Linked DNA regions of Homo sapiens: region 1 is linked to region 2. The links come from fine-mapping of genetic effects on gene expression. A gene starts in region 2. The other region holds a variant in brackets. All regions are shown on one strand. Distances are from middle to middle.

Region 1 (5,364 bases), 34 kb before region 2:
CCAGGAGTTCAAGACCAGCCTAGCCAACATGGTGAAATCCCATCTTTACTAAAAATATAAAAGTTAGCTGGGGGTGGTGGCACGCGCCTGTAGTCCCAGCTACTCAGGAGACTGAGGCAGGAGAATCACTTGAACCCTGGAGGCGGAAGTTGCAGTGAGCTGAGATTGTGCTGCTGCACTCCAGCCTGGATGACAGGGCGAGACTCCGTCTCAAACAAAATAAAAATAGACAAAGGTTTTCAAGGCTAGGTTCCACCTACAAAGATTTTGATGTAGCTGGTGTGGGGTAGGCCTGAGGTCAGCAGCTGATAGAGCCCCACGTGCAGGCAGAGTTGAGCTTGCTGCCCGGGCCTGTTCACCACTCTCTGCTCAGCACCCAGTGGGGGGCCCTGGCCCAGAGCAGGTGCTCTGAGGCCATCTGTGGAACTGCCATCGGCCCTCCTGCCTCTGACATCCTCTCTGGGGCAGTCATGATCTTGGAGTCACCAGCCCTGGGTCAGCTGCTGGCCTAGGTCCCTCCACATGGCTCTCTCTGGAGCCCTCGTGGCCGCTCCACGGATGTCCTCTCCATGACTGTCAAGACCCTTCACCATGTGTCAGTCACCTGCTCCTCTCTGGGTCCCTTAAGGCCTTTCTGCATGCACAGCCCTGTCTGGCACTCAGAAACCTCATGTTGCCGGCTGCCCTCCCTTGCTGTCAGCGTCTTTCTTTTTTTTAAGACAGTCTCACTCTGTTGCCCAGGCTGGAACGCAGTGGCGTGATCTCAGCTCACTGCAGCCTCCAACTCCTGGGTTCAAATGATTCTTGTGCCTCAGTTTCCCAAGTAGCTGGGATTACAGGCTAATTTTTGTATTTTTAGTAGAGACAGGGTTTCACCATGTTGGCCAGGCTGGTCTCAAACTCCTGACCTCAAGTGATCTGCCTGCTTCAGGCTCCCAAGTGCTGGGATTACAGGCGTGAGCCACTGTGCCTGGCCGCTGCCAGCGTCTTTCTATACCTCTCCTGGGGTCACTGACCCTTCACTGTTTGCCACCTTCCTGATCTTTGTCACCATCCTTGTGTCAAGCACCAGCCTTGTCTAGATCACCACCTCTGCTCTCAGTCACCCCGTGACCGGCACTCGTGATGCCTGTCCGTCACTTCACTGGCCCCACCCACTGCTCCTCTGGCTCCACCCCCACCCTGGCACTCTGCCCACAGCCCCTGGCAACTCCACCCACTGCCCAGCTCTCACCAGAACGTCTGCTTCAGGATCATGCCTTGCTCCTCCAGCCACGTCTTTCTGGCCTCTGCTGTCTTGCCCTTCCCAGCATCCACCATGGCTGGTGGGAATTCTAAGAAAAGACCCACCAGAGGCTTTGGAAGGCACCCACATCCTTGGCTACACCAGGGTGCAGTGGGTGGTTTGCTGTATGGCAAGGAATGCAGATGCCGCGGCCCAAGACGCCCCCTCCCCCCCACCCAGGAGAGAGGAGCCTGGTATGGCAGGGGCCCGCTGGGGAAGGGGCGGGCATGGGCCTCTGAAGAGGAGGGGGGAAGCCTGAGGTAACTCCAGCGAGGGATGCAGAGACGGGCCACAGGAGCTCACCTTGGCCCGGGGGCGTGAGGCTCACTGCCTGGGAGAGGGCAGCCAGCACCGACTGCTCTGCCAGCCCAAGGCGCAGCCGTCCGCTCAGGGACCTGGGGAGAGAGCAGGCCAGGGAAGGGGGCTTGTCTGCACCTCCCCAATCTTGCCTCCTCCCTTCTCTGATCTCCTCGACCTTGATGTATGTAGACCCTCTCCTCAAAAACCAGAAGAATCTTCAGAGCCTGGAAGGGACCCCAGATATCACACAGCCCCATGTGACAGATGAGGAAACTGAGCCAGGCAGTAATGATCCTGCCCACTAGCATAGACTGGGGAGGGGCACAAGTAGGTGCACCAGCACCTCCCATCTCAGCTGCCCTGAGGGGTTGGCGAGGCTTGAGGAGGATGAGTCAGGGAGAGAACTGAGCCTGGCGCCCGCCCTGGTGACTGTAATGGTCAGGACCCCAGCATGGTCCTTGCTTTGAGCCAGTGGCAGGAGACAAGTGGCTTAGTTTGCCTCCCCATGTCTCCATTTCCCCTTCTATAAACTGGAGGTGAGGGTAACAAGACCAGTCTCACAGAGTTGCTGGTAGGAACTGATGAGGTAAGGCACGGGGCACAGGGCAGGGCTCCCAAGAAATGCTCCATGATGTGAGCCCTCAATGGATTTGCTCTCACTGTCATGGCAAACAAACCCTGGCTTCCTGCTGCAGGGCCCGCGCCCAAGCCGAGGCAGACCTCACCAATCAATCACAGCATGCTTCACCCACAGGGGCCCAGGGGCCTTCTCTAGACAGCACTACCAAGGGACAGAAGCTGGCCTGTGAAAGGAAATGGTGTCCCTTCCCACTCTTTAGGGGCTGGGCCTCCTGCTCATGCTTTTCTCATCCAAGGATGGTCAGGGCATTTGTGATGATTCCAGCTGCCAGTCCCTCCCTCCTTTCACCTCCGAGCCTGCAGTCCCCCTCTGTAGCCTCACAGGCCCACACGCTTACCTAGCGATGAACCGGGCTTCTGAGTGGCGGCAGGCCACAAAGAGGCCTTTGATGATGTCTATCTTCTTGGCTGTGGACTGGAGAGTCAGGGGAAGAGCCGTCAGTGCCTGGTGAAGGCAGGGACCACACCTCCACCCCACCAGCCGTGCTGCTGCCCTGCATTTTGGAATACCTGCCCTCCTTCCCTCACCCCATCCCCATGTCCCAGCTCCCATGGCCGCCCACTCTTAGGGCAGTAAGAACGAGCTAGCTCTCCTCCTTGCCTCCCTCTCCCTTTATCCAGGAAGTATTTACTGAGTCCTGTCATGTGGCAGCCATGGCATTAGGTCTGCTAGACTCTGAAGAGGAGACTCCCCTAGGATTGGGTGCAGGAAGGAGGAGAGGAAGCTGTGCACCCCATGAGAAGGACTGATGCGACCCAGCTGATGGTCTACCCAGAAGCCTTCCTGACACACGCGTGGCCTCAGGTCCCCAAGATGTCTGGGGTCCGGGATGAGCGGCCCGCCCCACTCACAGCACTGCCAGTGAGCCTGGCGATGTCG[C/T]GGAACTTGCTGAAGACCCCGGAGGCAGTGAGCGGAGGTGGTGGCAGCATGAGCCTCTGGGTGCTGCGGCTGTTCTCGGCCACCAGCCCCACGTCGCCTTTCTCGGCTGCCTCAGCCCGGACGGACTCCAGCTGCCGACCTTCAGGGGAGAGCGCGGGTGGGGGTGTCGAGGGTGACAGTTGTGGCTGCGTGTCTCCCTTCTCTCGCGGCCTGGATGAATTTTCTCCAGCTGTGTGTGCTTGTGGCGAGTCCCTGCACCTCCCTGTGTCTAACGCTCACCCACTTGGTAGAAATGGCTTGGGGAACGTGCCCCCAGCCACGCTGGCTGTAGGAAGTCAGCAAACATGCACGTGGAGCCAGGAAAGCGGTGGATGAACGAGCATGACCACACTCAGGGGAGACATCTGGGCCGGTGTCATCAGGGCGCGGATGGGATTTAAAGCCACAGGCGGGACAAGGTCACTAGGGAAGTGAGTGTGGACAGAGCAGAGAAGGCCAAGGGACCCTTTCCTCTGGCGGGTCATGAACATCTCTGGCAGTGACCAAAGACCCTTCGGCTTGTTTTGGAGCCACCAGCTTACACACGTGGGATGTGCTCTGGCCCCACTTACTGTCCAGAGCTGGGTCCCATGGGCGCCTGGGTGTAAGAGCTGGGGAGATGGAGCCTCAAGTCACGGTGACAGCTGTGACAAGCAGCTCTCAACCTATCAGAACCAACACACCCTTGTCACCAGATACTGTGTGTCACCTCTTTTCTGGTCTGAAATAAAATGTGGAGATAACATAACCTGCCTACACCTATCGAGATAACGCCCTAACCCTAACACAGAAAAGAATGAAAGGGAAAGCAATCCGTAATGAACGAACAAGTGCGCGTTTCAGTCCACAGATGCTCAGCCGCGGCACAGAGCACATGAAGGTGGGCCTCGCGCCTGAAGCGAAACTGCCACAAATGGGAGAGCCGACAGTGTGAGCCTCACCAATGGGATGTTATCGAATCACACATCAAAGGGGACGGGATTCTCCAAAGTGGCCAACAACTCACAACAAACCCGGGACTTGGACAGCCACGGGGGCCACAAGGCGGCACGGAGAGCAGTGTGAGTGTGAACACGACCCATCAAGGGTGGAGGCATGAGACAGTGGAAGAGGCCCCAGCTGCCATGGATTGTTGGGCAGGAAAGCCAGCATCTGCAACTTCTTTTGTGAGAAAAACAGATCCTTCTTTGTCCAAGCCAATGTAGTTGGGTTTTCTGTTACCTGCAGCTCAGAGTATTCTTAACCGACCCCGTGTGTGCTGGGTCTGGTATGACGTCAGTGCTCCCGAAACACATCTTGAGTGAATGAGTGAGAAAATCTTGAGTCTCATCTCCTCTGGCTCCCATAAGCCCGTAACTCTTTCCTGATCCAAGTCAACCTTTCTCAGTCCCTCTGTCCTCTCATGAAAGCCTGAAACCCCTGCCTTCCCTAAATGTTGGTGCCCATGGCCCTAAGCCAGCTCCAGTGCTCCCAGCACATCCTCTCCCCAGGCGGATGAGAACCCACCAGTGGGTGGTCATCCCTCCTACACTGACCAGCCCGAACCCTGGGCTCTGAGCCAGACCTGGTGAGCCTCAGACCCGTTTCCAAACTTCCTGGATGGCCCTGGGGGCCCACAGATAGAGGTTGCTCATGCCTGCCCCACGCTGGGGTGATTAATGCCCCCTGCAGGTGCCTGCCCCTCACCAGGGTCCCAAGCTGCCGACGGCTTTGTCATCCATCCAGTCACCCAGGGAGATCCTGGAGGCATTCCTCCTGCCTCCTCACCCTGACATCCACTGTCTGCCAGATCTCTCCTGCCCTCTTCTCTCTTCTCTACAGCTGGGGTCCAGCTCCTCTTCCCCCTGGATGCTGCCCCTTGCCTGCTCACAATCCTTCCATGGCTCCCCAGTGTCCTCATGATAAGCACCGAGCACTCCAGGCCCTTGGCAGGCGGGCCATCCGCATCACCAGCCTTTCCACCCAGCACTGGCGGCTGGGCCCCTTCAGGCTGCTGGCCCCCCACACACCATGTTCTTTCCTCCCACTCCTTCCAATCCCTCCAGTCAAAGTCCTTTCAGACCTCTCTAAGCCCCAACCTTCCATCTCAGCCCCCAAATCCTGCTGTCTCTGCCTCCAGCATCTTTCCCCAGCCCTCCCCTTCCCTGCACCCCACACCCCCTGTCCCAGCACATGCCTGGTCCTCCCTCACCTGAACTGCTGCCCCTGTGTTCTCTCCCAC
Region 2 (5,364 bases):
AGAAATACATAAGCGTTTACTGGGAAGCCTACTCTATGCCTGACAGGCTGATCACATTCTCAAATACCCTCAATCCTCAAGTCAGCCCTCCAAGACAGGTGAGATCATCCCCACTTTATAGATGAAGGTAATGAGGACAGAGGAACATAGCTGGGGTTCAGGCAAGGCTTCAAAACCCGGTGTGGCTGGCTCCAAAGCCCACGTTCCTTTCTCCTTACCACGGTACTCAAGGCTGGCTTCTCAACTCTGTGTACTGCTGAGTTGGGGGGAACAAACTGGTTGATGCCTCTGGAGGACCACCTGGCGTCTCTATCGGAACGGCAACCCCACTTCTGTGTATTTGGCCCACAGAGACCCTCACAGGTGGACCAAGTGAGGCACAAAGTTACCTGCTGCAGCACTAACTGTAATGAGAGAAGACTGGAAACTGGTGGAATGTCTACCCTTAGGGAACTGGTTCCCTCATTACTGGAATACCATATGGTAGAATATTGTTCAGGGTTAAAATTAAATGAATGATGGATAAAAGGTATAGGAGTTTTTTGGGGGGATGATAAAAATATCCTAAAATCGATTATGGTAATAACTGCACAACTCAGCGCATACACTGAAAACCACTGACTTGTACACTTTAAATGGGCACTTTAAATACACTGAAATACACTTTAAATACACTGAAAACCGCTGACTTGTACATTTTAAATGGGCAAAATTGTACACTTTAAATGGGCAAACTGTATAATTGTGAATTATATCTCAATAAAGCGGTTACCAAAATGAAGAGATAATGACAGGAAAAATATCAAGTAAGGATGAAACAGTACTCAGTAATAAAAAGAAACGAAGCACTGATACAAGCAACAACTTGGGTGGACCTCCAGGGCATTGTGCAGAGTAGAAAAAAGGTAACATCCTAATAATATATGATTCCATTTACATAACAATCTCCGAATGACAAAACTAGAGATGGTGAACACATTAGCGGTTGCCAGGGGCCTGGGGAGGAGTTCTTATGTGGAGAGGGAACTGTTCTATATCACAATTACGATGGGGGTTACACAAATCTATACAAGGAATCAAGCTGCACGGGCACACAGATGCACAATCACACTCACACCACACAAACTGGTGAAAACTGAACAAGGTCTGTAATCTAGTTAACAGAACTGTATTGATGTCAATTTCCTGGTTTCGATATTGGGACTACATAAGATGTCACCATTAGGGGAAGATGGATATACTCTTTTCACAACTTCCTTGAATCTATAATTATTTCAAAATAAAAAGTAAAAACAAGAGGTAAGCTCCATCCCTTTATCAAGCATACATTAGGCCAGACGTCTCCCCATTCAGATGATTCTCCATCTTTTACGAGCCCTTTACCTAGACCTGGACCTTACCACTGACCTCTCCCTGACACCACCCATCTCCCTCCAGTAGGGCCCACTCCTTCCAGGTGATGCTGCTGCCCGCGATTTACCTTCTTCTAGCCCCGCCCCCTCAGCACTTCCAGGTGGCCCCCGCCCCCTCAGCACTTCCGGTTCCCAGCCAGCCCCACCCTTGGCACCTCCCCCTTCCAGGTGGCCCCGCCCACACGCAATCTTTTCCCCGGCCCCGCCCCTTAGCTCCCTTCAGCCCCTCCCCCTCCCAGATAGCCCCGCCCCCTCGGGGGGCCTTCCGATTTCCAGCTGGCCCCGCCCACACAGTTTTCCCCCCCCCGGCCCCGCCCCTCAGTTCCATTTGGCCTCTCCCCTTTCCAGGTGAACTCGCACCTCAAGGCCTCTTCTCAGAGGACCTGTCCAACTGTCTCTGTCTCTCGTCTACCCTCTACCTGGCCCCCCTCCCTCTGGGAGACACCTCTCTGCACTCTCCGGCGGCCCGCAGCCCGCGCTCTTCCGTCTCCACCGCGCTCTCGGCAGCCTCAGCGTCCCCACGCCCACTCCTCTGCAGACACCCCGACATGGCGAAGCATAGGCCCCAAGCATTCGGCGCACCCGCCGCCCTCCGCCTCCCATCTGCTTGCGGACGGCCCCACTTGCCTTGCGTTGGTCCCGCGCGCCGCTGCCCGGGCAACACACTCAGATCCGCCAGGCGCGCCTCTGCAGTCCCAAGTTCGCGCCACGGCATTCGCGCGCAGACGTCTGCGGGCGGGGGCGGGGCAGAGCCTAGGGGCGGGACCTGGGCACCGTCCGCACCGCCGCCGTCGCGCGGAGGACACTGGGAGTCGTAGTCTCCCGAATGGGAGGAGGGCGGGAAAAGGGGTGAAGTGGGGCGAGCCCTCCCGCAGAGCACACTGGGAAAATGCCCGCGCTTTCCCTCGCCCTGGATGAGCGGGTGTGGCTGAGGGTCTGAGGAGTGACTGGCAGGGAAAGAGGAGGAATCGGTGGAAGCGCCCCCGCGAGGCACGGCGGGAAGAGAGGCGGGAGACCGCGCGGGGCATCCCGGGAGCAAGGGCCGGGCCAGGCCTGGGCGCGGGGCATTGTGGGAGGTGGACGCCGCTCCGGGGCGGGTAGGTGAGTGGGGAGGGGCGGGAAGGGTGCACATCTTGGGGAGGGGAGAGGCACAGCTAGGTGGGACGGCGGGGCTGGAAGGTGCCGCAGCGGGCGGGGAGGGGGGGAGTAGGAGGGTCGGGAGCGGGCTGGATGGGGCTGCTCGAGGGGAGACGCGCAGCTGGACGTGGGGGGAGCATCTGGGGTGAAGGAGCCCATCCGAGGACGAGGGGCCATGTCTAGAACGAAGATGCATATTGCGGGGGATGGTGGATGTAACTGGGAGGAGGGGCCCACAGCTGGACTGGGGGCCGCATCTGAGGAGGAGGGGACCACAGGTGAATACTGGTGACACTTCCGAGGAGAACTAGCCACAAGTGGGGCACACACCTGTAGGCGAAGCGTGGATAACTGCATGTGGGGAGTACATCTGGAGATGAGAGTGTCTCAGGGAAGCCCCAGCTACAGCTGCATGTGGCGAGCCATAGGGTCATAATCGGGGGAAGGGGCAACAGCTGCACGCCAGAGGCACATCTGGGGAGTGCGGAGCCACAGGTGCATGAAGCATGTGACCGGGTGAGGGGTCCGTGGCCTGGATGTGGGAGCACATCTGGAGATGGAGCGTCTTTGGAGGGGTTACAGCCAACTGTTGGCACATGGAAGGAGGAGTTCCAGATGAATACGAGAGTTAGAAGTTACTCTTGGGTGAGAGACACAGCTGGAAGGGGAGGAGGTTTTAGCTGGAATTTGAGAACACATTTGAGGAGATGTCCTTAAGGGACATCTGAGCTTAAGGGTCGTATTTTGGGAGGAGAGATTCCAACTGTACCTAAGGGTCACATCTGCGGAGGAGGAGACGAGTTGGAATTAGGAATCAAGATGACAGGCTCCAAGTGAACCAGGGATAAGGCGGTGGGAGGAGGCCAAAGATAGGATGGAGGTTGATATTTATATATTTGGAGAAAAACAGGCACGTCCGACCCCGGGCTACCCACCTCGATAGAGGCACCAGCAACCGACGGGGCAGGCCAAGAATGGAGTAGATGAGATACCCCGGGTGGGAATGGGTCTGATATCCACCTGTTCTCCCCTCCTCCACGCAGGCCCCCAGGATGGAGCGGCCGGAGCCCCCACCCGGCACGGCTGCGGGGCAGGAGGAGCAGGAGCTGCGGGAGCGGGCCTTCTTCTCGTGGGCCGAGTTCAGCCGCTTCTTCGACGCGTGGTGCCAGCAGCGGCTGGCGCTCTTCTTCGTCAAGAGCTCCATGCACCTGGCGCGCTGCCGCTGGGCCAGTGCGCCCCCGCTCTACACGCTCATCGACGTGCTCAAGTACAGCTACGTGCGGCTTGTGTGCAAGGACGTGCGTGCGCCCAGCCGGCCCGCCGTGGGGTGCGTGAACCTGAGCCGCTGTCCTGCTGGGGGGAAGGGGAGCACCGGGGGTGGGTGTGGGTGGGAGACGGGCAGAGAACACCCCACCCAGAGATGCAGAGGGGGAGAGGCCAACTGAGGCAGCCAAATACACCTTGCAGAGAGGCGGGAGTCAAGGAGGGACATGTACTGAGAGAAGAAGAGGAGCTAGAGAGACAAAGATACTCACGGAGCAAGAGATGGTGTGGGCCCGACTTACAGACTTTTTTTTTTTTTTCGAGATGGAGTCTCGCTCTGTCGCCCAGGCTTGAGTGCAGTGGTGCCATCTGCAGCCTCCACCTCCTAGGTTCAAGTGATTCTCCCGCCTCAGCCTCCCGAGTAGCTAGGACTACAGGCACCTGCCATCATGCCCGGCTAATTTTTGTGTGGTTTTTTGTTTTTGTTTTTGTTTTGTTTTGCTTTGTGTTGTTTTTTTGAGACAGAGTCTTGCTCTGTCACTCAGGCTGGAGTGCAATGGCACAATCTCGGCTCACTGCAACCTCCACCTCCCGAGTTCAAGCGTTGTTTCTCCTGCCTCAACCTCCTGAGTAGCTGGGATTACAGGCACGCGCCACCACGCCTGGCCAATTTTTGGATTTTTGTAGAGATGGGGTTTCACCATGTTGGCCAGGCTGGTCTCAAACTCATGACCTCAGGTGATCTGCCCGTCTTGCCTCCCAAAGTGCTGGGATTACAGCCGCGAGCCACTGTGCCCGGCCTGACTTACAGAATGTAATAGAGACTTCGAGAGGCAGAGCGTAAAACACACACACCCCAAGAGGAGAAAATAGTCACGGAAAATTCCAGAAACATGGAGACATGGAGGCAGAGACACCAGAGACAGCCAGGGAAACAGAAGAGCCAGGTTTTGTACACGTGACAAAGACTGGGAGACAGAGACTGGGAGACTGAACTGCAGAGAAGCCGCAGGATAAAGAAAAGGATCCATCTATTCAGTGAATAAGGGGCCAGGTCCCATGCTGTGGGCTGGGGATATTCTAGTTGGAGCGATGGAGTTGGGCAAGAGACAAAAATCCCTGCCCTTCTGGTACTTTCTGACTGGACAGAAAGATTGACGTTAAAAGAACAAGCTCACAGGTAGTTCCCTACAACTGTGCAAAGAGGGGCAGGTGAGAAATCCAGGAGAGCCAGAATCACACCCAGGTGGCCAGGGGTATTTTAATGGACCCCAATTGTATTTTATTTAGTCTTTATTTTTTTGAGACAGGGTCTTACTCTGTTGCCCAGGCTGGAGAGCAGTAGTGCGATCTTGGCTCCCTGCAACCTCCAACTCCTGGGTTCAAGAGATTCCCCCACCTCAGCCTCCCAAGTAGCTGGGACTACAGGTGTGTGCCACTATGCCCACCTAATTTTTGTATTTGTAGTAGAGATGGGGTGTCACCATGTTGGCCAGGCTGGTCTCGAACTCCTGACCTCAAGGAGGCTGAGGTGATCTGCCCACCTCGGCCT

The links. PIP is the estimated chance that this variant, and not a neighbour inherited with it, causes the effect.
Region 1: its variant is fine-mapped to the expression of LIG1 in whole blood (TOPMed, PIP above 0.99).

Annotation. Positions count from the first base shown.
Region 1 is chr19:48,134,446-48,139,809 of GRCh38, forward strand. LIG1 (DNA ligase 1) reads right to left here. Exons shown (of 28, transcript NM_000234.3): 13 at 3,077-3,243; 14 at 2,563-2,639; 15 at 1,589-1,680; 16 at 1,235-1,334. Among named protein-coding and RNA genes, the nearest start is that of LIG1-AS1, 8.7 kb to the right of the region's middle. The variant C/T (reference allele first, on the strand shown) is at 3,105.
Region 2 is chr19:48,168,202-48,173,565 of GRCh38, forward strand. It overlaps LIG1 (DNA ligase 1), which reads right to left and starts at 2,143. Exons shown (of 28, transcript NM_000234.3): 1 at 2,040-2,143. ZSWIM9 (zinc finger SWIM-type containing 9) reads left to right here and starts at 2,479. Exons shown (of 4, transcript NM_199341.4): 1 at 2,479-2,513; 2 at 3,593-3,876. The coding sequence starts at 3,602. RefSeq lists silencers at 1,582-1,651, 1,682-1,731, 2,532-2,671 and an enhancer at 1,625-2,284.